Linked DNA regions of Homo sapiens: all the other regions are linked to region 1. Evidence: fine-mapped expression QTL. A gene starts in region 1. Each other region holds a variant in brackets. All regions are shown on one strand. Distances are from middle to middle.

The links. PIP is the estimated chance that this variant, and not a neighbour inherited with it, causes the effect.
Region 2: its variant is fine-mapped to the expression of LINC01094 in whole blood (TOPMed, PIP above 0.99).
Region 3: its variant is fine-mapped to the expression of LINC01094 in whole blood (TOPMed, PIP above 0.99).
Region 4: its variant is fine-mapped to the expression of LINC01094 in whole blood (TOPMed, PIP 0.93).

Annotation. Positions count from the first base shown.
Region 1 is chr4:78,642,056-78,650,165 of GRCh38, forward strand. LINC01094 (long intergenic non-protein coding RNA 1094) reads left to right here and starts at 3,939. Exons shown (of 3, transcript NR_038308.1): 1 at 3,939-4,208. It also overlaps the pseudogene HIGD1AP13. RefSeq lists an enhancer at 3,576-4,775.
Region 2 is chr4:78,905,348-78,913,457 of GRCh38, forward strand. It overlaps BMP2K (BMP2 inducible kinase), which reads left to right. Exons shown (of 16, transcript NM_198892.2): 16 at 5,263-8,110. The coding sequence ends at 6,686. It overlaps PAQR3 (progestin and adipoQ receptor family member 3), which reads right to left. Exons shown (of 6, transcript NM_001040202.2): 6 at 6,531-8,110. Among named protein-coding and RNA genes, the nearest start is that of PAQR3, 30 kb to the right of the region's middle. The variant G/C (reference allele first, on the strand shown) is at 3,301.
Region 3 is chr4:78,604,258-78,612,367 of GRCh38, forward strand. ANXA3 (annexin A3) reads left to right here. Exons shown (of 13, transcript NM_005139.3): 12 at 20-142; 13 at 5,799-6,190. The coding sequence ends at 5,858. Among named protein-coding and RNA genes, the nearest start is that of LINC01094, 38 kb to the right of the region's middle. The variant G/T (reference allele first, on the strand shown) is at 4,869.
Region 4 is chr4:78,711,881-78,719,990 of GRCh38, forward strand. LOC101928893 (a long non-coding RNA gene) reads left to right here and starts at 4,201. Exons shown (of 3, transcript NR_188357.1): 1 at 4,201-4,255. RefSeq lists enhancers at 2,937-3,883, 6,634-7,205, 7,206-7,776. The variant A/G (reference allele first, on the strand shown) is at 3,143.

The sequences.
Region 1 (8,110 bases):
CAACCTAGATCCCTTGCATGAGCAGTTCACAATACGGTTCATGCTCCTGTGAGAATCTAATGCCACTGCTGATCTGATGGGAGGCAGAGCTCAGGCGGTAATGCTCACTCGCTTGCTGCTCACCTCCTGCTGTGTGGCCCGGTTCCTAACAGGCCACAGACCAGTAACAGTCCACTGCCCAGGGTCCTAGGGACCCCACCTCTAATAGGAAGAAATTCAGAAAAGGGGATGGGAGGTGACATTTTACAGAAAAGGAAGCTGAGTCTCAGAAAGTGTTTGTCTTGGCCAAAAATAAGCAGCAAAATGTGAAAATGAAATTTCACTCTCTAATCATTTCCTCCAAGCCTTGTCCTCTTTCTGTCCCCACCCGGCACCCTTCGTGAGCTGGCAATAAAAATCTCCCTCCTAGGTTTTCATGCTTATAGGAGAAGTCATTTGCTCAGAGAATCCCTGAGATGCATGGGGACAGGACTAGCCTTCTCCCCTTCTCCACTTTACTCCATCTGGCCTTGCAGTGAGCCCTCTCTATGAGTAAAATTGTTGACGAGACCATTCACTCAATTATAGCATTTTATGTGATATTATTTCATGAAATAAAATGTTCAGCTCTTGATTACCAGCCTCCCAGTTTTCCACCAAGGATGTGATGTGTTCTCAATGTACATTTAAGTTCTGTGAAGATTTTCCATTCATACATTCATCCAATAAATGTCAAGACATAAAGAATGCCAAGTCCCAGGAAGAGAAAGAAGAGTCCCATAGAATAAGGGGTTTAATTTCATGAAATGATTTGCATCAAATTCACTGGCCTCTCCTTGACTTCCAAACTCATTATCTTTCTAACCCAAGGCTCAAGGTAAGCCTGCATTCTTGTGACTCTTTCTGACAGTCAATCGTAACAAATCATGCTACCTCGGCTAACTGTCTTCACTTGATGTTCTACCCAGAAAAGCACAGTTGCTTTTCCTTCTGACCACAGCAGCCCTAGCCACACCCTGCATTGTCCAAGGGCATAGAGCCAAATTGCTGCTGTCACTGCTGCCACCTTTTGCTCCCTGACACCATCTAACAGAGCCTTGTGTCCCTACTATACTCCATGTCTTCCATCTCTAGGCTCCTCTTTTGCCACTGAGGAGCCCAGTAGGTGCCCACATTAGACACACTTCCTCACTGGCCAGACAGCAGGTGGGCAGAACCACAAACTCACTTAAGCTGCTGTCTTGAGATGCAGCTTTCTCAGGGACAGCTGGAGAGACAAAGTACACAGTCTCTAAGTGCAGTGGTCATGTCTTGTTCATCTTTACATCTTAGCACCTAGAATAGTCTTTAGCACTGGGTAGGAGCTCTGCAAATATTTGTGGAAAGAAGGAAGAGAAGGAAACCAGAATACTGAGGTGATTTGCCTAAGACACCTAGTTTAGCAGAGAACTAGATACGAATCCTGGCTCCCAAAGTCCTGTATCCATGCTCATTCCACTCTACCACTCTAGGCTTACATTGGCCTCCTGAAAGAAGGAAAAATGAGATAAATAACAAGGGAAGGGAGAGAGGATACAGAAGAGAACACCCAGTAAGGAAAATTTGGGGTTGTATTTGCAGGTGGCATAGCCACAAGGCCAGAGCTGATGTTTTCCTGGGCCCGAGGTGGTCTACTCCAAGGCAGATACATTGTAGTTATGGATAAATGGTGCTATTGATCAAATTCTCACATCTGGAAAAGGTCTAGCAAAATTGTTAATTCCAGGCATAGTGAAAGTAGCTCAAAAATATGTATTTTCAAAATGTAAATATGGACAATTACCATTATCCCACCTCCAATCTCCAAGCTTTTCTTTATTTCATTAATCATTTAAAAAATAAATATAATCTTTTCCTACCTAACCCAGCAAGATAAATGTGTCCTAAGAATTTGCTATTATTATTGCTGTTACTTAAAACATCTTTAGTGAACCAAGCATAGCAGGTATTAATTAATCTGATTTAATTAGAATGAGTCAAATTATATTCAGAAACCCCAGTGAAAATTTTAATAAGAAATTTCTTTTCAGAATATGACTTTGATGCAATTTTACTTTTTTCATGAGGTATGGACTGAGGAAGAGGAAGGAAGAGAAAGTAGGTAAAAGGAAATTTTTTTTTGCATTGCCATACTGTTAACCAAGACTAAAGACCAGAAGCAGAGAAATGGAATAATTAAAAAGTGATGACAATGTAATATTTAGGCATGCTGTCACACAGAGTCCAACAAAATGGTTTTAGAAATTATCTTTAATTCTTTTACTTACTGGGGAAAAAAATAATCCAGAAAACTATAAAGAGATAAATATTTCCTATTATCCTGTTGTTTGAAAATAACTACAGTTAGTATTTTAGTATATAGCCTATTCTACTGTTGCAAAATAGGTGCATTTCTAAGAAATCTCAACTTATCAAAAGAATGTAAAGAAACAGGTAACACTGGTTGAAATTGGAGAAGGATGGCTGGGGAATAGGGATGGAACAAAAATTTCTCATTTAGAAATACTAGCATGTGCCTTTTAGATTTTGTCCTTTAAAAGTGTATCTCCTATTAAAATTAAGCCAAATTGCAATTTAAAACTAACTTTTTTAAAAAAAAATGTTTTAATGGGAACAGAAATGTTAAAACTCACAGTAGAACAGAATTTTAAAAATAGTAATTTTAACAATAAATTTGTTTTCATAACCATAAATGTATTTGGTTATTGCTAGCTTTAATTTTAAAAAGGTAGATCAAAACCTACAAAAGGAAACACAAACTTCCTTACACTTTCCGCCACGTATTCAGCACCGTCTAATGCCTCATCACTGTTGCCATGCAGGTCTGCCTGCAGTACAGTCCATTACAGCCAGGGGAAGCAGCAGCTTTTTATCATTTCCCAGTTCCCAGTCAGTTCTGGTTATTACTAACAGTGATTCATTAAATTATGTTCAATAAGCAGCTAATTGTGCTATGTCCAATTTTTGTTAGGGACACTTTAACTGTAGGAGAAATTAATGCCTGTATAATTTTCCAAATGCTTTCCCCAGGCGTGTATACATATACTTTATATAGAAGTTATCTTTTTAAATTTGTTTTTACCAAAAAAAGAATCATAATAAACATACTACTTTAGAAGGTTTTTTTCACCCAACAAAGCATTTTGAAATTCTTCTCATTTTAACTTACCAAATTTCACCTTATCTACAATAAAAGTTTAATCCCTTATGAATGAGATTTATCTTTCAAAAAAGAAATGAATTTGCTTTTCTCCTTTCATACTGCCAGTATTTTCAGTATCTTTATGATGTTACTATACGAACATAAAAAATCAGTGTGATTCCATTACCATTTAAAGCCAGACACTAAGACCAATGGAGGCTGATATTCCTGTAGGCCATAGCAACCCTGGGAAATCTTGCCTTTGCTGAAGCTATACCAAATCCAGAAGTAATTGAAGTCCCCCTAAGGTTTCAGGTCCCCCCAAAGAAGGCAGGAGTTGTGCATTACTCAGCATTCTCAGATCTATTCTAAAGCAGATTATTTTCTTAGATTTTGATTCAATTCCATGCAATTCAAGCATTTTTATTTAATAAGTACAAGGCATTGTGCTCAAGGAGAAGTGTACAAGCTAAACTGGATCATTCTAATTTTCCTGAACACTTACAACCTCGTAGGAAGACATACATACATAAGTAAGTATGATACAAGGAAAATTTGTAAGACAAAGTAAATAAAAGTATTATAAGAAACACAGAAGAGGGATAGATTACTTTAGGCTGAGTGAGGTGGCTTTTGAGTTCCTACTAGAAGGGTGTGTAGGATTGTGACTAGAAGAGAGAGGAAGGTCTGGATGGAGCAACAAGAGTCTGGGCTATTAACACAGGTTTGAGTCAGGCTGACCGGAGCTGTAAAGCCCTTCTCGTTCTCACTGTGTGTTCTTTTCAGTTCTGTCTTCCTGAGGCTGCTGTTTCTGGGCATGGCCAGGGGATCTTCAGACTTTACAAACCAGTTGTGCAGAGCCAGGCATTTCAATAAGGAACAAAATGCTGAGTAACAACATGAAGTCAGAGTGTTGCTTGCCAAGAGCTGGGAGGCCTGGGTGGTTTCCCAATCTTAAAGAAGCAGAAGGATATTAAAGTGAGCCTCCCAAAGGAAAACGTGGATCTACTTACCAACGCAGAAAATGATACACACGGATTCGATTTAGGTAAGTGCACCCCCTGTGATGACTATTGGTCACTTCCAGATCACATGGACTAACTGTAGGTCTCAACTATTTTGACTTTTTTTTTCCAGAACAGACTAATACATAACTAACGGCTTACCTTTGTGAAAAATATTTTATGCACTGTAGAACAGATAATTTTCAGTCCTGGGCCAAAGGGGGAAACTTTGGAGAGAATTAAACAGGAAATGACTCTGCTACAAAGAATTCAGGAGCATGAGTGAAGTGAATAAACAATCCAGGCACGATTGATGAATTCTAGATGTCCTGGGAATAACAGGGCTTGTTGCCAGCTCAGATGGGTGAAATCCTACTCTGATGAAAGGCTCCAGGGCTGCAAGGAGACCACTCCTACATCCATCACATCAGTGTCACAGGTTTACCACCTGCTCAGCGATTATTCAACATCCTAAGGCCTTTTGCCCCATTACACACGTTTGACCACTTAGTCCAGGAATGAGGTACCAAATACTAGGGAGATCTCATAAAGCCTGCAGCTAAAATAAGCAGAGGAATCAGAAGCTGGACAGAGTGACCCAAGGAGGACTGGGGATAACTCAGGAGTTCCTTTTTTTTTTCTTTTTGAGATGGAGTCTCGCTCTGTCGCCCAGGCTGGAGTGCAGTGGCGCGATCTCGGCTCACTGCAGCCTCCGCCTATTGGGTTCAAGCAGTTCTCCCGCCTCAGCCTCTCAAGTAGCTGGGACTACAGGCACCCACCACTACGCCTGGCTAATTTTTGTATTTTTAGTAGAGACGGGGTTTCACCATATTGGCCAGGCTGGTCTCAAACTCCTGACCTCATGATCCGCCCGCCTCGGCCTCCCAAGGAGTTCCTTATTTTAATATTTGCTGAAAATTCTCCACCATAATTTAAACATGTAATGATAAGAAAAATATCTGCTTCTGACTGAATATTTAGAAAACACAGAGCTATATAACATAGAAAAAAACCCAAGTCGACCACTGACAAATAATTATTAGGACTATTTCTTTTCATTCTGTGTTCTCTGCACATATGAAAGTAAAAAATTGGAATCATATTGTATATACAGTTTTATATTAATTTTTTTACATAGTCACTTTAATAACAATACATATGCTATGTTATCACTATAGAATGTAAATTCAGGTTAGACAAGAAAATTTCACAAGTGTAATAAAGCATTCTAATTAGCTGGGCGTGGTGGTGTGCACCTGTAGTCCCAGCTACTCTGGAGGCTGATGTGGTAAGATTGCTTGAGTCTGGGAAGTTAAGGCTTCAGCGAGCTGTGATCATGCCACTGCACTCTAGAGCCTGGGTGACAGAGCAAGACCCCATCTAAAAATATATATATATAAATTAAGCATTTTGCCTTTTATCAAAGTTTGTGTATAGTATCTGGCCAAACCCGCTTGCTCATTAGTCACTTTCATTATAGGTAATTTGTTTAGTTTCTTGTTTATGATTCTTCTGGAGAAAATTTGAAAAGTGTTCTTCACTTACCTTAGCATGAGTGCTTAAAATAGGATGACATTTAAAAATTATTCTAATATAACAGCAGCTAAAATATAATTCTGCACTTATAAAAGAGCTAAACTGGAGTTCATAATTAAGTTATTCTCATGTTTACAATTATGATTCTGAAATAAATACTGTTACTATGAAGCTCTATTGTAAGCTTTCTTGATTCGGTTTAGACACACATACATACACTTAAGAGTTGTGAGAGGCGTTACAAGTTGTTAATGTATTCCATGCACGTTTCAGAAAAGTTCTAATAGAGACAGCCAGTTCACAAGACAGGAAGAAGAAAAGTTAGATTAACCAGGGCAGATAAGACTCCTATATAACATACAAAGCATGTGAAATTCTTCAGCAAACTGGGAATACTTCAGGGATCGCCAGCTATCTTCTTTAGAACTAATTTCTTCTTTCTTTTCTTTTCTTTTCTTTTCCTTTCTTTTCTTTTCTGTTTCTTTTCTTTTTTCTTCTTTCTTTCTCCCTTCCTTCCTTCCTTCCTTCCTTCCTTCCTTCCTTCCTCCCTCCCTCCCTCCCTCTCTCTCTCTCTTTCTTTCTTTCTTTCTTTCTTCCCTTCTTTCATCTTTCTTTTCTGTCTCCCTCTATCACCCAGGCTGGAGTACAGTAACTGCAACCTCCGCCTCCCAGGTTCCGGTGATTCTCATGGCTCAGTCTCCCAAGGAGCTGGGATTACAGGCATGTGTCACCACCCTCAGCTAATTGTGTGTGTGTGTGTGTGTGTGTGTGTGTGTGTGTGTGTGTGTGTGTATGTATTTTTGGTAGAGACAGGGTTTTGCTATGTTGGCCAGGCTGGTCTCAAACTCCTGGCCTCTAGTGATCCACCCGCCTTGGCCTCTCAAAGTGCTGGGATTACAGGAATGAGCCACCACACCCGGTCCTAATTTAATCTTTACAGTCTAAGAAGGTGGTTTTAAAGTTTTAACATCATCAAGTGGAATTAGGTGACATGTTTCCTTTGTGTTAACTTGACTTCCCTGAATGACCTAGTTAGTGAACTAGTCACTAGTAATTTGGTCACCAGGCAAATCAAGCATGCAAGAAAGGAAGCCAGTATTCAAAATACCGTGTTATCGTCTGAACCCACTCAAATAATTTATTTCCAACATAAACATGTAACCTCAATAATGAGATGTCTAACTAAAGTAAGGTCCTCTTACAAGATCAAGACAGCATCCTCCTTCCAAGGCTTAGGCTTTGCCCAGAATTCCTAATACACAGAACAGCCCATACCAACAGTCATTGCTTCTACAACACATGTGGATCAGGAGAAGGGACCTTTTAGCATTTCCTCTGCTCTTCCATTTGTATAATCCTTATGGAACAATTGCTGGAAAGCCTGCCATTCCAGTGAGAACAAATGGTGGCTCTTCAACTTTTCGAACAAGTTTGGATCCTTGATCTTTATCATAGGAAGAAAGGGAAACATCTGTGTCTGTTGACATAGTGATTGAAGAATCTTCCTAGAGTGAGAAAATCTCTCACAATCCAACTGACCTCTATATTAATTTTTTATCTAACATATTATAGTCATTTGCCATGTTATTAAGCATTGTTGTAAACATTGCTTTTAATGCTTATATAATATTTTATCTTACAGGTGTATGACAATTTATTTAAAAGTTCCCCTTCTTGGGATGCTTAGAGTGTTTCCACATTTTTAAATTATAAATAACACTTATGGACATCTGTACATATAAATCTTTTACCACAAATAAAATTGTTTCCCTAGGATTCACGTAAAAAAACATGGAGCAAGGTTTGAAGCTGTTGAACTCTATGGTTCCTTCTTCTTCTTTCCAGGCACGCTACATTCAAATGACTTGGAAGAGCAGGTTCTCTGAGCCAGGATACTAAAGTCCCTGTTTAGGAAAGAGCCACGTTGTATGTTTACCCTACCACAAAGATACAGGTGAGAAAAACTGAAGCCTGGGATGGTGGACCAAAGAGAGACACTGACAGAATGAGCCCTAGACTTCCAGAGTCTGGGAAACTTAGGCCAGATAAAGACTAGTAGTCTGGCAGTTATTACTGGGAATCACTCTTACTCTACAGCTAGGCGTGTGCCATTCCTCCTGTCCCTTAACTAGAAACTCCCTATGGATAACCTGGCTTCTCATTCCACTGGGAAAATTGAAGCATGCAGTAGAGACCTTCCACAAGCTCCCTCCACCACCTCTTACCCACTTGCCTGTCTCTATGCACATAAATATCTGTCTTCTTTTCTTTCAATACCATGTATAGGTTGACAACACTCACATTTTCATATCTCCAGCCCAGATTTCTCCCGTGTGTCTTGACTTGATATCTAATTTCCTACATGACATCTCTCTTTGGATGACTAATAATCATCTCAAATGTGTATGTC
Region 2 (8,110 bases), 260 kb after region 1:
TCTTGACTAGAAACCATCAAAATATCATTCTACCATATTTAGTTAAAGAAAAAGAAGAAATACATTACTTAGAGCCAAAAATAAAAACAGTGGGTGAATATATGAAATTTCACAGTATACTAAAATAATGTAAATGAGTTATGATTCTGTGCACCATCTACACAGTTTTTAATGCTGTAAATACATGTTGTTAGTGCTTATTCTAAATATTATACCCCCATCTCCCACCTACTTGAAGAACAGCTATTTTTATGTTAATAATACAGATCTCAGTAAATATGGGGATTATTAGGATTTAGGGTATATTGAATTATAAAGCAACATATTTAGGCTTATACTTTTGGGAAATTAACTTTAGCAGTGAAATAATCCTGATTAAATTTCATAGTAAATCAAATGTGTATTATTTAATCTAACAACTAGTGGGAATCTGGCCCCAGACACAAATAGTGGGAAGATCTGAAATTTTTTTTTTTAAATTATAGGAATATGTTTAGGCAAAGAAATGGAGTATGAAGGTTTATGGCATTCTTAGCTAGAGGTCACATTCTAAAGTGCTGTGCATTGTATAGTTATAACCAACTTTATAACTTAAAATACTTATTCTGACAGTCTTTTATGTCTATGGAATAGGACTGAAAGCCTTAGAATATACTGAAATACTTTTTATTTTTGTGTAATTCACCTTTCTTTCCCAGCTCTTCTGTAGTTTCATGATGAATAGATGATTAAGTAGATCACTGCTACTGCAGAAACTTACCTTGGATTGTGGTAACTTGCAGCCTGGAACCTAACTTTTCCTCAGCAGGAGGTACTGGAGAGATAAAAGGATTAATAGTTTGTCTTAGTATGCTTTCAGAGAGCCTCATTACTGCTCTTTACTTTTTATAAGTTTATAACAGCAGTAAAAGTGTAGAGTGAAATATTTAAACAATGTCAGTGTGGGTTGCAAGAATATGGGAGAAAACAGGAATTTGGATAAATATTTTTGATTGTTATTTTAGTTTTATGTAGGGGGGCAAAATAAGTAAAACCAGTCTATCTACACCAACAGAAAATTTCCCCAGTTGCCCGTACTATTTGCAGATGTAACCTGAAAGCACAAAGGTGGTATAGATGATTGTGTCTTTTCTTGCTCTTTTTGAAAGTGTGTTTCCATTTCTTATACTGTGTTCTCAAATATAGCTGTCTAAAAATCAAAAATAGAATTTCCAGGATCTAAAATGTACCCTTATGCTGTGTGGATATACATTTGTTGGTCTACTTACTTCTGGTCAGTTCTGAAGTGGATCTCAGCTCCTCTTGAATTAGCCATAGACTTGCTTCTCCCTACACTTCTCCCTCATTTATATTCACCTGCAACCACTGGGCCCAGAAAAGTTACTAGAAGCTTATTGGGTATGATGGATAAAATAATTGAATTTGGCCATTCCCAGGACATGATGATGGTAGAGTGCTTATTATGTGTTCAGGCACCGTTCTAAGTCCTTTCTTCACAATAGCTCTATGATATAAAATGTGTTATCCCATTTTGTGTATAAAGAAAGTGGAATAGTGGTGACCTTGTCAGGATTATTATTGGGTTAGCTTTAGTAGCTGTGTTAATTACCCATGAGGAGGGAATCATAGTATATAAATAAAGTGAAATTGATACTAAAAAAGGAGGGTTTCCTTTTTACTCCTTGAAGGAAAAAGTGCATGAATCATGGTTGTATCTAAAATGCCGAAAAACTAGAAACAACCTAAATATTCTATTGCTAAATAGTGAACAGTTATATATGGAATATTTTATCATATTTCTATCAGAATAAATAATAGACTGTTGATACCTGAAAAGATGCATTAAAAATAGTAAGTTAAAAACCCACAGATTTATACCCACACTGACAATTATAAATGTGTATTTCTATTAATACAACTTTGATAAATGGACAAAGGGCCAACAGAATGAGAAGTATAAAGTGACAGATGTCTTCTGAAAAGTAATGGTAGCCAGTTGAATAATGAAAACAGTAAATTTTAAGAAGACTAGGGAGTACAATGTAATAATTTTAAAAAGAAGGCGAATTTAAATTCACTTCCAAGTGACACTCTCCAAGATGAATTATCTGTCCTACGTTAAATGTTCCAGAAGACCTTCAGGAACACAACTAGAAATGGAAAATTTCAAGATAAGTTGTATAGCAGCATTTCCCCAAAGTACTTTTGCATAGTTGGTTTTAAAGGTTAACAGGCATTACATGTAAATAAAAGGGTAGTGAAGACAATTTGGGAAATCCTAGGGTTCATAAAATTAGATTCTTTTGTGTAGGACTCATTAGCACCTTTAATGAGCATACTCCAGGTGAGTAGGAGTGGAGGCAGAATGCAGAGTGCACCATTTCATAGACTTGTTTGCTTGAGACCACAGAACTGTTTGTCTTGGTTCTTGTTAGGGAAATAGCCTCTGCAGAATACACTTTGGGCAACATTGGAATGTTACTTGGAGGTGTCCGTGAGCAGGCGTGAGGTGTGAATGTTGTGGCTGTGGGTGGGTATGCAGCTCGAGGAGTAATACGTTAAACGTTTCACAGTCAGGGATGATGGGAAATCTTCTGGAACCGTACATATTTTATTTTCATTTTTCCCTTCTTCCCATATTTTGCTTTTGAATAAAAATTCATAAAAATAAATTCACTAAAATTAACTTTGTTTTTAATATCATAAATACGCTGTGTAGGGAAGAAGTCAAACTTGAGAATCTGCATTTGATTTGCTTTTAATCTGGAAGGATAACAAATACAGCATGTAGCTCTTGGCTGGTTTTAAGGAACTGACAGAAGATTATATTTGCAATTAAGTATAACCTGGTGGTATTCTTCACATACTTGTCTCCCACACATTCTTTAGCACCACTACTCATGTCAACATTGCCAACAAACTATACAAGATGACCAGATCCAGTGGCCATTTTATGTCCTTAGTTTACTGGACCTCTTTGCACCATCCAGCTCAGTTGTCTGTTACCTCCCTCAAACATTCTTCTCTCTCCATTTCTGTGACATTGCACTCAGCTGTTTTCTTCCTCCTCTCTGGCTGTTACTTTGTAGTTTGTTTTGTATGTTCATCTTCCTCTGCTGACTTCTGAATGTTTTATACTGAGGGCTCAGTTTTGGATCTTCTTTTCTTCTATGTTTTCTTCCGAGGTATGCCCTTTAGTCTTGTGGCTCTCTCTGCATACCAACTGCATGGTGATAACTCCCAAATCTATTTTCTTCAGCCAAAAACTAACCATTGGTTTCAAATCACAGATACCTAACT[G/C]CTGTACACTTAAATGTTGTCTCACACATATGTCAAGCTTAATGTCTCCAAACAAAATTTTTAGTACTCCTCTTCACTTTCCAACTTACTCATTTTTTAAAAAATTATGCTCATTAAAATTTGTGTGTGGGTACATAGTAGGTATATACATTTATGGGGTACATGAGATATGTTGATACAGGTATACAGTGCATAATAATCACATCAGGGTAAATGGGTTTCTATCACGCCACTCATTCTTTTCTTTCTGTTAATGGTGCTGCCATCCACCAAGAGTTTTCAATCTCTATTTTTTCTACTTTGACCCACCCTGCCACCACTGTCATGTCATCTAGGCCACCAAAATCTCTAACTTGCATTACTATAATTTCCTTTTGCCTGAACTCCCCTTCTTACCTTCCCTTAGTCTTTTTTTTTTTTTTTTTTTTTTTTGAGACAGTTCGCTCTTTGGCCCAGACTGGAGTGCAGTGGTGCGATCTTGGCTCACTGCAACCTCTGTCTTCCAGTTTCAAGCGATTCTCCTGGCTCAGCTGGCACCTGCCAACATGCCTGGCTAATTTTTCTATTTTTAGTAGAGATGGGGTTTCACCATGTTGGCCAGGCTGGTCTCAAACTCCTGACCTCGTGATCCACCCGCCTTGGCCTCCCAAAGTGCTGGGATTACAGGGGTGAGCCACCGCACCCAGCCCCCTTAGTGTTTTTCTATAGAGCAGTCATTTTTTTTTATGTAAACCTAATCATGACACCTATTTTAATAATAGCTTTCCATTATACATGGAATTTTGAATTAGATGTATAATGAAATATACGCTGCTTATCATGGCCTTAGAGGACCTTCACAGTCTGGCCTTTTCCAGTCTTCCTTACCTCATGTTGTACCTGATCCTCCCTTGCTCACTATATTCCAGCCACAATAGCCTATTTTCAGCCCCTTAAATATGTCTTTATATATGCCATTGCTTTTATTGGAAGCTGCTTCCAGCTTATCCTTTGCATGGCTGGGCTCCTTCTCATTGTTCAATCCTAACTGTCGTCTCCTTAGGGAGGTCTTCACCACTGTCCAAAGTAGGTTTATGCGCCCATTTCCCTGCTGTCCTTTATTTCAGAGCACTAGTCACAATTTATGTTTACTTACAACCTCTGACTGTAAACCCCTGAAAGCAGAAACCATGTTTCTTTTACTCACCAATGTATAATCAGTGTATAGCAAAGTGCCCTATATTTCTTTCGTTGAATGAACTCAGAAAATGAAGTGACTGAATGGATTCTGAGCTAAAAACATCTCCAGATGGTTTAGATTTGTTTTTAAAGGAATCTCGCTTTTTTAATGTAATGTATAGATATTATAATTAAAGGAAGTCATATCATCTAGAGAAGGCAGATGTTTTTGGTACAGTCTCCATTTAGTATCTGGTCCTTAGCTTTGGTGAGGCCATTCATGCTAAGTCAATTCAAAAGATAGTGGTTTATAAAAAATACAATGCTGATTTAAAAAAATAGTGAAACAAATACGTAACTGAGCAGGCAGGCTGTTCATGCTTGTTGATCTCTATGGGAAAACTTTACAAGAGTTGAAATATAAGCAGGAGGTATTTGGTGAATGTGAAATCTGAGCTTTCAGAATTAGCAGAATAATGTTATTTTGGTGGTGGGGTGAAGAAAATTTGCTAGTCTACTACATTCTGTGTGCTATAAATAAAATTTGGCTGTCAGTGAGAGTACGATGAGGCAGGGTGTAGGGTCCAGATATGAATAAGTCTGTCTACATTAAGACTTAACTATCTACCTGAGGTCAAATGCATTCTCTAAGTCTAATGACGAAGAATTGACAACATTATTTTTTCCTCTAAGGGAACTCGTATGAGGGATTTGTAATGCCATGTGTAATACATATTAACATTTAGTGCAAGAGGATTCTGAAATGCATTGGAATGCTGTAATAATATTTATTTGAACTTGCAGGTTCTCCTGAAAAGAAAGCTGAACATTCATCTATAAATCAAGAAAATGGCACTGCAAACCCTATCAAGAACGGTAAAACAAGTCCAGCATCTAAAGATCAGCGGACTGGAAAGAAAACCTCAGTACAGGGTCAAGTGCAAAAGGGGAATGATGAATCTGAAAGTGATTTTGAATCAGATCCCCCTTCTCCTAAGAGCAGTGAAGAGGAAGAGCAAGATGATGAAGAAGTTCTTCAGGGGGAACAAGGAGATTTTAATGATGATGATACTGAACCAGAAAATCTGGGTCATAGGCCTCTCCTCATGGATTCTGAAGATGAGGAAGAAGAGGAGAAACATAGCTCTGATTCTGATTATGAGCAGGCTAAAGCAAAGTACAGTGACATGAGCTCTGTCTACAGAGACAGATCTGGCAGTGGACCAACCCAAGATCTTAATACAATACTCCTCACCTCAGCCCAATTATCCTCTGATGTTGCAGTGGAGACTCCCAAACAGGAGTTTGATGTATTTGGCGCTGTCCCCTTCTTTGCAGTGCGTGCTCAACAGCCCCAGCAAGAAAAGAATGAAAAGAACCTCCCTCAACACAGGTTTCCTGCTGCAGGACTGGAGCAGGAGGAATTTGATGTATTCACAAAGGCGCCTTTTAGCAAGAAGGTGAATGTACAAGAATGCCATGCAGTGGGGCCTGAGGCACATACTATCCCTGGTTATCCCAAAAGTGTAGATGTATTTGGCTCCACTCCATTTCAGCCCTTCCTCACATCAACAAGTAAAAGTGAAAGCAATGAGGACCTTTTTGGGCTTGTGCCCTTTGATGAAATAACGGGGAGCCAGCAGCAAAAAGTCAAACAGCGCAGCTTACAGAAACTGTCCTCTCGCCAAAGGCGCACAAAGCAGGATATGTCCAAAAGTAATGGGAAGCGGCATCATGGCACGCCAACTAGCACAAAGAAGACTTTGAAGCCTACCTATCGCACTCCAGAGAGGGCTCGCAGGCACAAAAAAGTGGGCCGCCGAGACTCTCAAAGTAGCAATGAATTTTTAACCATCTCAGACTCCAAGGAGAACATTAGTGTTGCACTGACTGATGGGAAAGATAGGGGGAATGTCTTACAACCTGAGGAGAGCCTGTTGGACCCCTTCGGTGCCAAGCCCTTCCATTCTCCAGACCTGTCATGGCACCCTCCACATCAGGGCCTGAGCGACATCCGTGCTGATCACAATACTGTCCTGCCAGGGCGGCCAAGACAAAATTCACTACATGGGTCATTCCATAGTGCAGATGTATTGAAAATGGATGATTTTGGTGCCGTGCCCTTTACAGAACTTGTGGTGCAAAGCATCACTCCACATCAGTCCCAACAGTCCCAACCAGTCGAATTAGACCCATTTGGTGCTGCTCCATTTCCTTCTAAACAGTAGATACTTCTGATGGATTCTCGGCATTAACTCCTGTTTCAAAAAAGTGTGAACAGTTTTATGAATTTGAAAGAAAATTTGGTAGCTCTTTATAGCATTCATTCTTAAAGATCAGTCAGAATAGGTGATTTCTAAATAAACCAAATAGAAGAATGAAGTATCTCTACAGGGTAGTAACTTGATTCCTCTTCAGGAGAAAAGGGAGCTAAATTGCAAGCTCTAACTAAGGGTTTCTGCTACTGACATCACAACACAGAAATGCAAGTGTGGTACTTCCAGTGAAAGCACATGGCACCTTTCTAGGTGTGTAGCCACTGAGAAGGGACAGTGAAACTGTTATTTTTGATATCAGAATGTCATTTTTATGTGCATATCCCTAAAATTAGGGTTATTTCTACATACACTAGTTACACTTGTGAATTTTTTTTAAGGTCTCTTTTAATTTCCAGACAGTTAAAAACAATCTAGTTATCTTAAAGCATTAGAAAGTTATTATCTGGAGAGTGCAGAGATTTCAGTCCATACACCTTTCTCCACAAAGCAGAGCCAGAAGTAACTGACTATTGTGCCTAAAACTCTGTTTCATTTTTAAAAACAAGTGCCATTAAAATGGAATATCTAATGATAAGCATATGAAATAATGTGTAATTAGCTCAATTTAACTATTCCACAACTTACATATTCCAAAACAATGTTATACATGATAAATATATATAATTTTTGTCAGTTAAAACAAATTAAAAAAATGGACTATCGTCGCACAGAAGCCTAGAACAAAAATATGAAGAGAAATATCTGACATTTGTAAAGAAATTATAAGAAGAAAAAAAGATACAGAACAGAAAACATTCACTACTTTAGAAACACTTTATGCATGGCTTCTTGCCCCAAACTTTTATTGTGATGGCCCTAATAAAGCAGATTATTGGAAAAATTGGAGGACAAGGGTTGTATAAAAATTTTATTTTATGAAGAAAATATGTAGCGGAAACTGAATTTTCAAGACATTTACAATGTGAAATCATGTTGCATTTAACAATGTACTTTATTAGCAACTTCACCAAATATTCCCCAAGTCATAAGCAACAATTATTTTTATTAGGTTTTGGGGGGTGGAGTAGTTTTAATAAAGTGCACAGAATGGTGACACCCACAAAGCCTTATATAAAGGCAGGATTCATGCATCCTGCTGCAAGTACCTCTGCACTAATATACCAGATCCTAAAATGCATATAAGGTGGACTAGCATCTTAATTCTGCTAGTTGATTGTGTCTTTACTGAAAAGAACCCAGCTACCAATTTGCCTTTTTTTACACCACAAATCCTAATTAGAAACTTGAGGTTTTATAGAAATCATTTAATGATAGAGATTACATATGTGAATTAATGTGAATATAGTATCTGTGCTTCCTGTGTCTATGACTAT
Region 3 (8,110 bases), 38 kb before region 1:
CACCTGCATTCCTTAACAGGGTATTGGAACTGATGAGTTTACTCTGAACCGAATAATGGTGTCCAGATCAGAAATTGACCTTTTGGACATTCGAACAGAGTTCAAGAAGCATTATGGCTATTCCCTATATTCAGCAATTAAAGTAAGTCTACTTTTAAAAATAGCAAAACATATTTTGCCCTTCTCTACCCATCTCCTTACTCTTATATGCCTTAAAATATAAAGATATTTGACTTAGATTTCTCTCTCCTTGTCAATGTATAAATGTGTTGTCTGAGCTTAAAATAGTAGCAGCAAAATATCCCTTATTTTCAGCTCTAAAATCCCAGGCATATAATAGACACTCAATATTTTTTTAGGTGTACTAGCCACTAATTTTTCTTCTTTTGTGAATTACATATGCAAGTTGTTTACCTGTTTTTTATATTGCACTGTTTTTATTTATTTCAGTCTTTATGACAATGTAAGAAAAGAAAAATACGTATTTTAAATTTCCTCTCTGTTTTACATGAGACAGCATGGTTCTGCAGCTTAGAGTGCTTTTCATTTCAGTATATAGGAAACTTTCTCATTTTATTTAACAGCTGTATATCATTCCATTGTTTGTATATTTGTACCCACCACAACAAACAGAGGCTTCCAGTTTATTGCTATTGCAAACAATGTTGTATAATGCATACACAACTTCATCAGGTACGAGTGTATCTTTGGGATGAATTCTCAGAAGTAGGATTTCTGAGACAGATATAAATGCATTTTAAATTTTGACAAATATTACTAATTGAATTCCATTTTGCAATTCCATGAGGAATGTATGAGAACTTCTTTCTCCATAGCTTTGGCACAGAGGGTATTTTCAAACTTTTAGGTTTTTAAAACATTTTTTAGAGATGGGGTCTTGCTGTGTTGCCCAGGCTGAAGTGCTGTGGCTGTTCACAGGTGCGATCATAATACATTGTAGCCTAGAACTCCTGGGCTCGAGCAGTCCTCTTGCCTTAGCCTCCAAGTAGCTGGGACTATAGGTAAACTTTTGGGTTTTCATAATCTGATAGGTGAGGAATTGTATCTCAGTGTAGTTGTAATATACATTTTTCTTAGTATAAGTAAGGCTGAATATATTTTCATGTTTGAAATAACATTTGTATTTCTCTTTCTGTGATCTGTCTTTTTACATTCTTTGTCCACATTCTTTTGGGTTTTTGTTCTTTTTGGTCAGTTTCTAAGACGTTTTTCACATAAGGTAGATTAGCCTTTTGTCTGGTCATATTTTCCCAGTCCGTTCTTTGTCCTTTGACTTGGCCAAAAGTATTTTTTTCCAAGCAGAGGTTGCACATCTTATTTAATTAAATTTATCAATCTTTCACAGTATTTTAGTTTTTAAAAAATCTGGTCCCTTCTGTTTCTTTCATTCTGGATGAGAATCTTCCTAAAATGGGCTCCTTCCTTTCTCTTTTAAAGCATGAAACCCATTTTCATTGTTTTCAGATCTCAGTTGATATATTATACATAGAAACTTCAAATAAATTACAAATTATTTGAATTAATAGGGCAGTAAGCCTGACAAAAATTGTACAAGAGGCTTCTGTACCTTAAGCTCGTGGTTCAAAAGTCATAGTCCCAACAGGAAGATGGCAACTAGTTAGTGGAGAACTAAGGGGCTAGCCCCACACCTGCTCAGTAGCCTTCCATTGATTTACTTTTCTACCTTGATGCTCCAGACCACATATGAAAGTCTCTAGTAAATGAGTGATAGAGAGTGTTAGTCCAAGCTGGTTCCCTGGAACAAAGTGGAAGCTGGGGTTGGTGAGTGGAGCAATCCACTGTCCTTGCCTCCAAGGCCACACTGACCAGGGGAAAAGACAGAGTCAGGGCTGCCTTCGCAGAGGACTTGCAGGCTATGCAGACCTCTCCGTCTCTTTGCTACTCCATCTACCCTTGAATGTCTCGAGGAAATCAGCACTAGAGAGTATTGGACCCAGGTGAACTCTCCAAGGTCTAAGCTGAGACTTGGGGCCTAGAAGGTGATCCAGGATGAAGAGGGAAGCAGCAGCCAAGCAGAGTGTTTGCTCTGAGTGCTGAGGGTCTAAAACTGGGAATGGAGTCCATGCTGATTAGACCCCCTAAGCTGTGGATCATTATGCACCATGCACATCCTGATCCTGGGTAGCAGCACCCTCTCTCAAGCCCCTACAAGGCTGGAGCACTACCTCTGTGGGGGAGCTTACACTCAGCGATGTCCCCTGGGGACACCTGGCTTAGACCACATTCCAGTGTCCCTGCCAGCAGCTGGAGTCTTTGGTCCAACCTTCGCTATGGCCCTACCCACAATAGCCACCCTTGAACAGGCACAAATATTAGCCTGGGTCTTTCTGCAGCTATCTTGGGAAGGTTTCTGCCTCTGACTTTACAAATGGCCTTTGAATGAATGAATGAATGAATGAACATCAATCAGTCAACTAGATTCATTCACTAAAATCTCTCTCTCTCTCTTTTTAATCAGAGTTTTTGTTTTTGCACTAAACTTTTACAGAAAGAGATGCTGAGATGCATGCATAAGTTGAAATCAGGAACTTACTCAAAAAGGCAATTCTCAGACTGTGCCTGGGACTTAGCACAAATTGCATCAACTGCTCACACTCAATTCTATTTGAATCAGTCCTGACACATCACAATAGTTTCAATCATCAGAGGAAGATTCAATAACATTAACCATGTTGTAGCTACTAAGGCAGAAAAATAGACTCACACATTTTCTAAAGATTGTCAGTAACAAGGTTGAGACATAAAGAGGGCTTTCAGTTCACCCTCAGCAAACCAGAAAATTAAATTAACCAGTGGCTCTCCGTTCCCCAGTGGTCTGGGTAATTGAGGCTTATTGTATTAGAAAACATTTAAACTATTTGTAGTTTGATAGAAAAGAAAAATCCATCACTGAAAACTTCAGTTTGCAGTTTGAAATAGTACAAGATTTCTTTATTTCTACCACCTAACACATATTATTAAGTAATCTCATTACATTTTTGCTATTGAAGAACAGGATCTTTTTAGATGGTTGTTTCTGAAATTCATGGGATAGAGTTCCATTTTGCATATCATCTCAGCCTGTCATCCTGCCTGTTTTCTTCCTTCCACCTATTGTTTAGACATTTCTTTGTCCATTGACACCTTTCTCAGGGGGTAACCGGTGGGAAGGAGAAGGCAAGGAAGAACAGAGGTGAAAAACCAATGTGTACCTCTTACTACTTTATAAGAAGATATTATGGAAAATTTAGATGAAATTATATTTTTTGGTAGTTTTCCTTCATAGACAAATTCTGTATTTATTTAATAAATAGCACAATTCCAAGCTTTTTATGGGAAAATATAGTAGCCACTCACAATCAACTCATAATCTATGTGGAGACTTGAGGTAGGTATGAAGAAACAATTAGAAGATAATAATTGAAACAACAGACAATTAAATACTAGATTGTTGAATATAGAGCTAGTACTATCGGAATTGAGAAGAAAAGAAGTTTGGGGTTAGAGAAATGGGTCTTGAGCCTGCCTTTCAGGTCAACAAGCATGTGTTGAGTGTCTCCTGTGGGCCAGGTGCTCTGCTGGAGCATTTACCTTTAAGACCCCAGATCAATAGGGTCTTAAAAGTAAATGCTCTAGAGACAGATATGGGAAGAAGCAAGAGGGAAAGAAGTAATAAGGCATTTGTTTGATTAGAGGGTCTACCTTGGGGAATATTGAGAAATAAAATCCAAGTAGCAAGATGAGTTCAGTTGAAAGAGAGCTTTGAGATCAGCGAATTCACTCATTCAATTAAAAATATTATCAAATGCATATTATGTGCTAGGCTCAGGGTTACAATTATAAGCAAAGGGGGTAGGGTGGGGGAAGACATTTTCTGCCCTTATGGAATTACAACTATGTTAAATGTAAAGGAAAGTGACATTGTGCTAAAAGATCCTACAATAGTAGGACTTGACTTAGAGGAAAGGCTTCTATGAGAAAGTCATGATTCAGATCTGGAAAATAAGTAGATATTAATAAGGCAAAATGTATGGAGGTAAGGGAGCCAGTAGAACATTCTAATAAAAGAAATGACAAATGGAAAGGCCTCATGGTGGAGGAAGCATAATGAAAAATGAGGATGTGGGGGCCAGATCATGCAGGACCTTTTTGGCAATGTTTAAGGAATTTTGGCTTTAGCTTAAGAGTAAGGGGAAGCCATTGAAGAGTTCTGGGCATGAGCTCTTGAAGAGTTAGTATCAGGATCATGAAAAGATCCCTGTAAGATCTTCTTATTCTGGAGAATAAGAAGGGCTCAAAAGATATTTAGGAGTTGAAACTTAAGGGACTTGGTATAATATCTTGGTGTGAGGAAAGGAAGATAGCAAGGATGACACTCAAGTTCCTAACTTGGAAAACAGACAGTGGCGCCATTCCTTGCAAGAGGATCAGGTTTTAGGTTGTTTGTTTGTTTGTTTGTTTCCTTTTCTTTTGGGGGAGTGGGGGGAGGTTTATGAGTTTGGTTTTACATGTATTGAGTTTGAGATGTCTTTGAGCCATGTAAGACATGTGGAGAGGTCAAGTAAGTCATTAGCGGTGTAAATATACTTTGAGTTACTTGGATGTATTTTCTTGACTAACTGGTAGAACGCCTAATTGTTTACAACTCTGATCAGAGATGTCTAGAAGGAGCTCTTTTAATACAAAGCTGGAGCATTGTTGACTTGTCAGCTCTGCTATTGCAGAGCAAGACAGGAAAACCAATAGCATAAGAACTAAAATCTATATAAAAACGAAGAATATTGTCATATATTTTGTGAAACAGACAAATGAACAAGAAATAAAGAAAACAGAAAAATATATATAAA[G/T]GCCTATTGTGTCTTACTATGAAAGTAATGCTTAACTTCTTCACTAAATGAGCCTTCTCTGAGACTTCCTTTATATTACCACTTTCTCTAATATTCACCCCAGTAACAGCCATTCCAAATGTGAAACTTAAGTGATAAGAAGAGCTCACTGGTTGGGTTACCTCAAATAAAATAAAAATAATGTGAGCATCTTACACAATCCAGGTTGAAAGCCAAGTTTTACCTCCTGTGAAGTCTTTTGCGTTACAAACTTGGTATCTTTGCCCTTTAAGCCTCAACCTCACGTAGTATCTTTTCTGGACAACAGTCTATTTTTGGTTGGCCTTGGGAAAAGGAACTGATAAACATATTCTTTAAAAATGTGGTTCATTTCACTTTCCTAAGTTAGGCAGTGTAGCAGGGTATTAAGGAGCCAGGATATAGGGATTCAAATCCTGCTTTTGTCACTTATTCTCGATAAGATTTGAGGCAAGTTTCCTAACCTGTCTTTCTCATTTTACTTATCTGTTAAATGGGGGATACGTATAGTACCTATTGCAGAGAGCTTTTAAAAGGGTTAAAGTAGTTAATACACATTAAGCCTTTTGAATAGCAAGTGTTCGATAAATATTATTAAAACTAAAATTTGAAGTTTTTATAGAAATCAATATTATGTAAGTGATGCAATCTTATTTTATTAAACCAAAATTGAAATTTAACTGCAGTATATCAGGAAGAATCTAAATATTACTTACAGTGAAGAAGATGCTGGTCAGAACGTAATTACACTCAGGTATGAATGAATGATGGAATTGCAGGTATGTTTTACTAAATGGTATAGCTCATGAGTCTCACACCCAGGTGAATTCCCTAGTGCTATAGGATTTGATTCATTTATGGTCTCCCATTATTTATACTGTATTTGTTCTTCATTGATTTTATTCTTTGCAGTCGGATACTTCTGGAGACTATGAAATCACACTCTTAAAAATCTGTGGTGGAGATGACTGAACCAAGAAGATAATCTCCAAAGGTCCACGATGGGCTTTCCCAACAGCTCCACCTTACTTCTTCTCATACTATTTAAGAGAACAAGCAAATATAAACAGCAACTTGTGTTCCTAACAGGAATTTTCATTGTTCTATAACAACAACAACAAAAGCGATTATTATTTTAGAGCATCTCATTTATAATGTAGCAGCTCATAAATGAAATTGAAAATGGTATTAAAGATCTGCAACTACTATCCAACTTATATTTCTGCTTTCAAAGTTAAGAATCTTTATAGTTCTACTCCATTAAATATAAAGCAAGATAATAAAAATTGTTGCTTTTGTTAAAAGTAATTTCTTTGTTTGCTTTCAGAGCTTGCCAACATTGTTTGATGCCTGGTGCCAACAACTAATATTTTAAAACATGTTTCTGTATAGAAGCTGTTACTGCTTCAGTTTATCACCTTGTTAATCACACTTTTTTGAAAGAAAGGAATAAGATGAAGATGTATGTGACCCTGGCCTACCCTTTGTAGTTGTGATCAAGCTATAGGAGTGGTAATGCATGATAAGTTATTTCAGCTTTCAGAAAACATCTGCTGAAGGATTAATCTAACCACTTCCTGTCTGAATGGCAAGCATGAATTATGGTTGCTTCATGCTAAATACTACTTTCCCAGAATGGGCATTTAGAATCAAGCCTCTAAGGTTTCCTTTTCTCTTGAGTTGGCAAAACTATGCATTTAAAGAATCCATCATGCCATCTTTGAGTGGGACCTAATATGAAATACCTTGACTGATATGAAATAGATAAAGTGAAAAAAATTCCAGTTAGAGTTATTTTCCTGGACCAGAATAGAAATGATCGTACTGGCCATGTGCAGTGGCTCACGCCTGTAATCTCAGCACTTTGGGAGGTTAGCAGGCGGACTGCTTGAGCCCAGGAGTTTGAGACCAGCCTGGGCAACCTAGTGAGACCCTGTCTCTGCCAAAAATACAAAAATTAGCCTGGCATGGTGGCACATGCCTGTGGTCCAAGCTACTTGGGAGGCTGAGGTGGGAGGATTGCTTGAGTCAGGAAGCTCATTTGGCAAGTTAGTTCTGTAATCAATACTATAAATGTCAGTCATAACTAAGATGATGGCAGGAGATAATGAAAACAACTACTTAAATATTTGGGAGATAAAATTGAGTAAACATGGTATTCAAAGTTACCAAGTGTCAGTCAAGTATGCCTTCACGATTTTAGTGTAAGTGATTTAGTGAGTAAGTATATCACGAAGCAATAAATCAATGTTAATACTCATAGAGTGCTTACTATGTATTAGGTACTATGTTAAACAGTGTAGTATATTTTAATTTGTTAATCCTCAAGGCATCTTACAATGTAGATACCAACACAGATATAGAAATGGAAATGGAAGCTTAGAGAAATTAAGTAACTTGTCACTGTAAGAGCCAGGTAGTCCAACTCCAGTGTCCAGGCTCTTAACCACTGTTTTGCCTTAGAATTTATCCCATCCCAGGGCCACTGTAGTTTTCAATGCCTAGTGCTTAGATTAGAACAGTGCTCAGCACATAAAAGGCATTTAATACAGTGAATCTTTATTTTAGATCTCATTCATCCTCAGAGTTGTTATACCACTTATGTATTAAGTACTTTCTGAAACAAAGCATGGTTACATGTGTCAATATTTCCCCTGTTTTGCAAGTGAGGAAAATGAGACTCAGGTTAGGTATCCAGCCCAGGGTTACACAGTGGCAAAGCCAAGGCTTAAGATCCGGGTCATCTGGACTTTAAAACTTATCTGTGGCTGGGCAAAGTGGCTCACACCTCTAATCCCAGCATGTTGGGAGGCTGAGACAGAAGGATCACTTGAGCCCAGGGGTTTGAGACCAGTCCAGGAAACATCAGGAGACTCTGTCTCTACGAAAAATTTAAAAATTAGCTGGGTGTGGTAGTGTGCACCTATAGTCTCAGCTACTCAAGAGACTGAAGTGGGATGATCAGTTGAGCCCAGGAGTTTGAGGCTGCAGTAAGCTATGATCACACCACCGTACTGCAGCCTGGGTGACAGAGCAAGACCCCGTCTCAAAAACAAAACAAAACAAAAAAACCTTACCTGTGCATGAGTGAGTTTGAAGAAGGTGAGAACTTGAACACAGTAGTGATCACACAAGAGAATTCTGCAGAAAAAAAAAAAGCCCCAATGAGGTAACCCTCTAACCCTTCTACTCACATCTGTTTTGCCTTGTATGCATTGGACTTC
Region 4 (8,110 bases), 70 kb after region 1:
TAGAAGGCCATTGGTTTGGGTTGAGCTTTTGTACTAGGCCCAACAGACCAAACCAAAATGTAGTCACTCATGCTGAAGTTCCATGCCACCAAGATGAAACCAACATGTTTATCTGAGAAATCCGGAGGCAGAAAGAGATAACAGCCAATTTTCCAAATAGGCCAGTTTTAGCTGCATGATAAAGAAGTCCCCTCGACTTTAACATTTACAAGGAAAGTAACGTTGAAATGACGATTCCACTTTTCGCTCTGTTTCTGCTTTTTTCAGCCCCTTTCTGTCTATAAAGCTAAGCTCCTCTGCTCAGCTCATTGGAGCACTTATTCTATTTTACAGAATGAGGTTTTATGTGGTTCTAGAATCACAAATAAAACAAATTAGATCTTTAAACTGAATTTGTTGTCATTCTGTTTTTTGACAGGCCAGATAGTAAATAATTTAGGCTTTACAGGCCACATAGTCTCTGTTATACCTATTCAAATCTGCCTTCATAGAAGGAAAGTAGAAAGCAGCCATATCTTTTACATATTTTACATAGAAATGGTGTAGCTGAGATCCAACACAATGTTATTAATAAGATTTGGTGAGTCAGATTTGGCCTATGGGAAGCAGTAGTTTGCCCACCTTGGTTCTAGATAATTTCATTTAGTCTAATTGAAAGTTTATAATGCAGTTTAGCTCCAAGATTTTTGGCTCATGGTAGCAATTCCTCCCCAAAATCACGTTTAATAGCTTCAGTTTAAATAAACATAAATCTGAAACAAACTAGGATTTTAAAAAATTAGTAAAATCTAGATTGTGGTATATTCTACAAGATAACTGCCCTAGATGGTTTTTGGGATTTTTGGTTGTTTGATTTGGAGTCAAGATCTCACTCCATCACCCAGGCTAGAGTGCAGTGGCATGATCACAGCTCACTGCAGCCTTGACCTCCCAGACTCAAATAATCCTCCCACCTCAGCCTCCCAAGTAGCTGGTACTACAGGCACATGCCACCACACATGGCTAATTTTTGTATTTTTCATAGAGATGGAGTTTTGCCATGTTGTCCAGGCTGGTCTTGAACTCCTGAGCTCAAGCAATTCACCCATCTCGGCCTCCCAAAATGCTGGGATTACAGGTGTGAGCCACCACACCCAGCATGCTCCTAGATGTTTAAAAGAAAATGTGATGAGGAATGAGGTGGAAAAGCAGGGAGAATGTTCTAATCTAAATCAAAAGGAATTTAAGAGACTGTACAAGCAAATATAATGCATGAAGCTGTTTGGATCTTGGATCAAAAACAAAAATAAAAAGTTGAAAAAAATCTATGGGACAATTGAGGTGTTTGAATATGATCTATTTGGATATAATATTGTTGGGATTAGAAAGCAATACTCCCAAATGAAGACCTCAGAAGCAGCCTCAGAAGGAAAAGCATTTCTCTGACCTTTTCCTGCTCTCCTGTCCTCAGTCCCATTCTTCCTTGAGGTTAGTTACAGAAATGAGAATCCCTCTTCCCCAAAGAAGGTCATAGAAACCAGAACCCCTTTTCCTCAAAGCCAGCCATAAAACCTAAAATGTTACTTAACCCTCCCCTCAAACTTTCTTTGTAAAAACTGGTCCTTAAGAAACTATGTGACCAACTTTGTTTGACTGTAGGTCATAAGACCTCTATTCCAGAGGGGGTCTGGCCCTATACTCAGAAGGAAGGAATGTATTCTCAAAGAGGTCAAGAATATGAACAGACAGGCCTTACTGGGTTTTCCCACTCAGTCTATTAGCATCGGATTTTCTCTTTTTGTCCAATCATGTTGAACATAAGCATTAAAATGGACAGTTTCCCCTATATCTTTGGGTCTTCATTCTGAAGGCTCCTGTGTCACCTAAAACCATGATCAAATAAATTCGTATGCCCTTTCTTTTATTAATCTACCTCTTGTCAGTGATTATCAGCAAAACTTCAGAAGGCAAAGGGGAAGTTTTCATGTGCGTCCGTGTGAAGAGACCGCCAAACAGGCTTTGTGTGAGCAACATGGCTGTTTATTTCACCTGGGGGCAGGTGGGCTGAGTCCAAAAAGAGAGTCAGTGAAGGGAGATAAGGGTGGGGCCGTTTTATAGGATTTGGGTAGGTAAAGGAAAATTACAGTCAAAGGGGGTTTGTTCTCTGGCGGGCAGGAGTGGGGGGTCACAAGGTGCTCAGTGGGGGTGATTTTTGAGCCAAGATGAGCCAGGAAAAGGACTTTCACAAGGTAATGTCATCACTTAAGGCAAGGACCGGCCATTTTCACTTCTTTCGTGGTGGAATGTCATCAGTTAAGGTGGGGCAGGGCATATTCACTTCTTTTGTGATTCTTCAGTTACTTCAGGCCATCTGGGCATATACGTGCAAGTCACAGGGGAAGCGATGGCTTGGCTTGGGCTCAGAGGCCTGACATTCCTGCCTTCTTATATTAATAAGAAAAATAAAACAAAATAGTGTCGAAGTGTTGGGGCAGCGAAAATTTTTGGGGGGTGGTATGGAGAGAGAATGGGCGATGTTTCTCAGGGCTGCTTCAAGCGGGATTAGGGGCGGCGTGGGAACCTAGAGTGGGAGAGATTAAGCTGAAGGGAGGTCTTGTGGTAAGGGGTGATATTGTGGGGATGTTAGAAGAAACATTTGTCATATAGAATGATTGATGATGGCCTGGATACGGTTTTGTATGAATTGAAAAACTAAATGGAATAACAAAAGGAGAAAAACAGGTATAAAAGGTCTAAGAATTGGGATGACTCAGGATATCTGATTAGAGACTGCCTAAGGAGATTCAGCATAGTCCTGCCAGCAAAGATTATTTATTTACTTCAAGAGTTAAGAGTGGCAGTTTGGGGATAGCACCAGGAGATATCAGCTGTGATGGCTTGGAAAAACAGTGTAAACCGGCAGTGTAAACAAGAGCAGGGCATGTTTGAGTAGTTGAGAACGGTGAATAGGAGTATGACTAGACAGAAGGTAGTAGGGATGACAAGTTTTTTGGGGCACAGTCTAAGTTGGTCTGGTGTCTGGAATGAGACTGGGACCTAATAAAAAGGAGCGTCTATACAGGAGCTTAAATGGGCTGTATCCTGTAGCATTCCGAGGATAAGCCTGAATTCTGAGAAGGGAAAGTGGTAAAAGTATTGTCCA[A/G]TCCTTTTTAAGTTGGTGGCTGAGCTTGGTGAGGTGTGTTTTTAAAAGACCTTTAGTCCATTCTACTTTTCTTGAAGATGGAGGACCATAAGGGATATAAAGGTTTCACTGAATACTAAGAGCCTGAAAAACTGCTTGGCTGATTTGACTAATAAAGGCTCATCTGTTATCAGACTGTATTGAGGTGGGAAGGCTAAACTGAGGAATTATGTCTGACAGAACAGAAGAAATGACTGTGGTGGCCTTCTCAGACCCTGTAGGAAAGGCCTTTACTTATTCAGTGAAAGTGTCTATTTAGACTACAAGGTATTTTAGTTTCCTGACTTGGGCATGTTGAGTAAAGCTAATTTGCCAGTCCTGGGTGGGGGCAAATCCTTGAGCTTGATGTGTAGGGAAGGGAGAGGGCCTGAAGAATCCCTAAGGAGTAGTAGAATAGCAGATGGAACACTGAGAAATTATTTCCTTGAGGATAGATTTCCACGATGGAAAGGAAATGAGAGGTTCTAAGAGGCGGGCTAGTGGCTTGTGCTATAGCATAGCCTGCCTTTGCTGGTGTGTGGCGATTAGGCCTGGTGGAACTGCCATCAATAAATCAAGCGTGATCAGGGTGAGGAACAGGAAAGAAGGAAATATGGGGAAATGGGGTGAATGTCAGGTGGATCAGAGAGATACAGCCATGGGGGTCAGGTGTGGTATCAGAAATAATGTGGGAGGCCGGATTGAAGTCCGTGCCAGGAACAATGGTAATTGTGGGAGACTTAACAAAGAGTGAGTACAGCTGAAGGAGCCGGGAAGCAGAAAGTATATGTGTCAGGTATGAGGAAGAAAATAGATTTTGGAAGTTATGAGAACTGTAGAGAGTGAGTTGAGCATAGTTTGTGATTTTGAGGGCCTCTAAACGTATTACAGCAGTGGCAGCTGCTGCACGCAGACATGAGGGCTAGGCTAAAACAGTAAGGTCAAGTTTGGACAGAAAGGCTACAGGGTGTGGTCCTGGCTCTTGTGTAAGAATTCTGACCGCGCTAACCATGCCTAGGAAGGAAAGGAGTTGTTGTTTTGTAGAAGGTGCTGGGGTTTGAGGGGTCAGTCGGACACGATTGGCAGGGAGAGCACGTGAGTTTTTATGAGAATTATGCCGAGATAGGTAACAGATGAGGAAGAAATTTGGGCTTGATTGAAGTAATGGGGGCTGTCTGTGAAGCTTTGCGGCAGTACAGCCTAGGTAATTTGCTGAGCTTGATGGGTGTCAGGGTCAGTCCAAGTGAAAGCGAAGAGAGGCTGGGATTAAGGGTGCAAAGGAATAGTAAAGAAAGCATGTTTGAGATCTAGAACAGAATAATGGGTTGTAGAGGCAGGTATTGAGGATAGGAGAGTATATGGGTTTGGCACCGTGGGGTGGATAGGCAAAACAATTTGGTTGATAAGGCGCAGATCCTGAACTAACTTGTAAGGCTTCTCTGGTTTTAGGACAGGTAAAATGGGGGAATTGTAGGGAGAGTTTATAGGCTTTAAAAGGCCATGCTGTAGCAGGCGAGTGATAACAGGCTTTAATCTTTTTAAAGTGTGCTGCGGGATGGGATATTGGCGTTGAGTGGGGTAAGGGTGATTAGGTTTTAATGAGATGGTAAGGGGTGCATGATCGGTCACCAAGGAGGGAGTAGAGGTATCTTATACTTGTGGGTTAAGATGGGGAGATACAAGAGGAGGACACAAAGGAGGCTTTGGATTGGGAAGAAGGGCATCAATGAGATATAGCTGTAGTCCAGGAATAGTCAGGGAAGCAGATAATTTAGTTAAAGTGTCTCAGCCTAATAAGGGAACCCGGCAGGTGGGGATAACTAAAAAGGAGTGCTTAAAAGAGTATTGTCTAAGTTGGCACCAGATGGGGAGTTTTAAGAGGTTTAGAAGCCTGGCTGTCAATACCCACAACAGTTATGGAGGCAAGGGAAACAGGCCCTTGAAAAGAAGGTAATGTGGAGTGGGTAGCCTCCATATTGATTAAGAAGGGGATGGGCTTACCTTCCACTGTGAGAGTTACTGGGAGCTTGGCGTCCGTGATGGTCTAGGGGGCTTCCGAGGTGATCAGGCAGTGTCAGTCTTCAGCCGCTAAGCCGAGAAGATCTGGGAAGGAGTCAGTCAGAGAGCCTTGGGCCAGAGTTCCAGGGGCTCTGGGAGTGGCTGCCAGGTGAGTTGAACAGTCCGATTTTCAGTGGGGTCCCACACAGATGGGATGCGGCTTAATAGGAATCCCAGGCTGCAGGCATTCCTTGGCCTAGTGGCCAGATTTCCGGCACGTGTAGCAAGCTCCTGTGGGAGGAGGTTCTGGAGGAACGCCTGGTCGCTGCAGTTCAGGTGTTTGGAAGTTCTTGTGTGCTGGAGATGTGGCTGGGGTTTGTCTCACAGTGGAGGCAAGGAATTGCAACTTTTTTCTATTATTGTACACCTTGAAGGCGAGGTTAATTAAATCCTGTTGTGGGGTTTGAGGGCGGGAATTTAATTTTTGGAGTTTTATTTAATGTTGGGAGCAGATTGGGTAATAAAATGTATTTTGAGAATAAGACGGCCTTTTGACTTTTTAGGGTCTAGGGCTGTAAAGTGTCTCAGGGTTGCTGCCAAACAAGTCATGAACTGGGCTGGATTTTTATATTTGATGAAAAAGAGCCTAAACGCTTCTGATTTGGGATGAAGAAAAAGGAGCATTAACCTTGACTATGCCTTTATCTCCAGCCACCTTTTTAAGAGTAAATTGCTGGGCAGGAGGGGGAGGGCTAGTCATGGAACGAAACTGTAAGCCAGACCAGGTGTGAGGAGGGGAGATGATAAAAAGATTATAGGGTGGAGGAGCAGAGGCTGAGGAAGAATTGGGACCTAGCTCGGCCTGGCGAGGAGCAGCCTGGGGAGGAAGGGAGAGGTCAGATGGGTCTGTAGAAAGGGAAGATTAGAAAGACTCAGCGACGCTTGGGGTTGGTACTGAGGGGACAGGCGGGAGGGACAGAAGGAAGATTTGGGAAGAGTTGCACTGGGCACAGAGACTAGGAAGGGACTGATGTGTAAAAGAATGCCTGGACGTCAGGCACCTCAGACCGTTTGCCTATTTTACGGCAAGAATTATTTAGATCTTGCAGGATGGAAAAATTCAAAGTGCCATTTTCTGGCTATTTGGAACTACTGTCGAGTTTGTATTGGGGTCAAGCGGCATTGCAGAAGAAAATAAGGCATTTAGGTTTTAGGTCAGGTGTGAGTTGAAGAGGTTTTAAGTTTTTGAGAACACAGGCCAAGGGAGTAGAAGGAGGAATGGAGGGTGGAAGGTTGATGATAATGAAGGAAGCAAGCCTAGAGAAAAGAGAGAGTAGAGAAATGGAGGGAAGGGGTTCGGGGGTTCTTACCTTCCAGAAAAGTGGGAAAAGGGGTTGGGGCACAGAGATAGGAGGTCAGGGCATGGAAATAAGGGATGGGGTGCAGAAATAAGGGGTTGGGGCACAGAAATAAGGGATCAGGGCATGGAAATAAGGGATCGGGGCATGGAAATAAGGGATTGGGGTGCAGAGATAAGAGGTCGGGGCACAGAAATAAGGGATTGGGGCACAGAGATATAAGAGGTTGGGGCACGGAAATAAGGGATTGGGGTGCAGAGATATGAGGTTGGGGTACTTGCCCCTCTTCTAGAAAAGCGGGACTTGCCGCTAAGAATGAAGGAGAAGGGGTTGAGGGGTACTTGCCCCTCCCCCAGAAAAGCAGAGAAGGGGTAGACACAAGGAGAGAAGGGGTTGGGGTACTTGCCCCTTCCCCAGGAAAGCAGGACTTGCTGCTAAGGGTGAAGGACCAAGGCAGGCGTCCCTGCGTGGTCTGGCACCTTTGAAACATGGGTGAATAATGACAGAGGCGTCCCTGCAATGATTAAACACCAAGGGAAGGCTGCCTTCCCAGTCCGTGACCGGCGCCGGAGTTTTGGGTCCACAGATAAAATGTGTCTCCTTTGTCTCTCCCAGAAAATGAAAGGAATTGAAATTAAGAGAGGGGAGAGATTGAAGAGTGGAAAGGAGAAAGTGGTTGAGGGACAGTGAGAGAGGTTGGAGAAGAGAGTAAGAAGAGGCTGCTTACCTGATTTAAAATTGATGAGATGTTCCTTGGGCTGGTCAGTCTGAGGACCTGAGGTTGTAGGTGGATCTTTCTCATGGAGCAAAGAACAGGAGGACAGGGGATTGATCTCCCAAGGGAGGTCCCCCGATCTGAGTCACGGCACCAAATTTCATGCACATCTGTGTGAAGAGACCACCAAACAGGCTTTGTGTGAGCAACATGGCTGTTTATTTCACCTGGGTGCAGGTGGGCTGAGTCTGAAAAGAGAGTCAGTGAAGGGAGATAAGGGTGGGGCCGTTTTATAGGATTTGGGTAGGTAAAGGAAAATTACAGTCAAAGGGGGTTTGTTCTCTGGCGGGCAGGAGTGGGGGTCACAAGGTGCTCAGTGAGGGTGCTTTCTGAGCCAGGATGAGCCAGGAAAAGGACTTCACAAGGTAATGTCATCACTTAAGGCAAGGACCGGCCATTTGCACTTCTTTCATGGTGGAATGTCATCAGTTAAGGTGGGGCAGGGCATATTCACTTCTTTTGTGATTCTTCAGTTACTTCAGGCCATCTGGGCGTATATGTGCAAGTCACAGGGGATGTGATGGCTTGGCTTGGGCTCAGAGGCCTGACAGAAGTTTTCCCTTGGCCCTTGACAATATATTATATGATATTAAATCAATGTTATATTACTTAGAAGTGATGATGATATTATAGTTATGCGGAGAATGACTTTGTTCTTACTGCTTGTATTAAGGTATTAAGGGATGAAATGCTGTGAAAATGGTTCAATTAAAAACAACAGATGATAAATTATCCGTGAAAAAAAAAAAAACAACCCAGATACCAGTCAAATTGAAATAGAGGAAAAAAACAACAGAATGAGAGAAAGAGAGAAAAAGG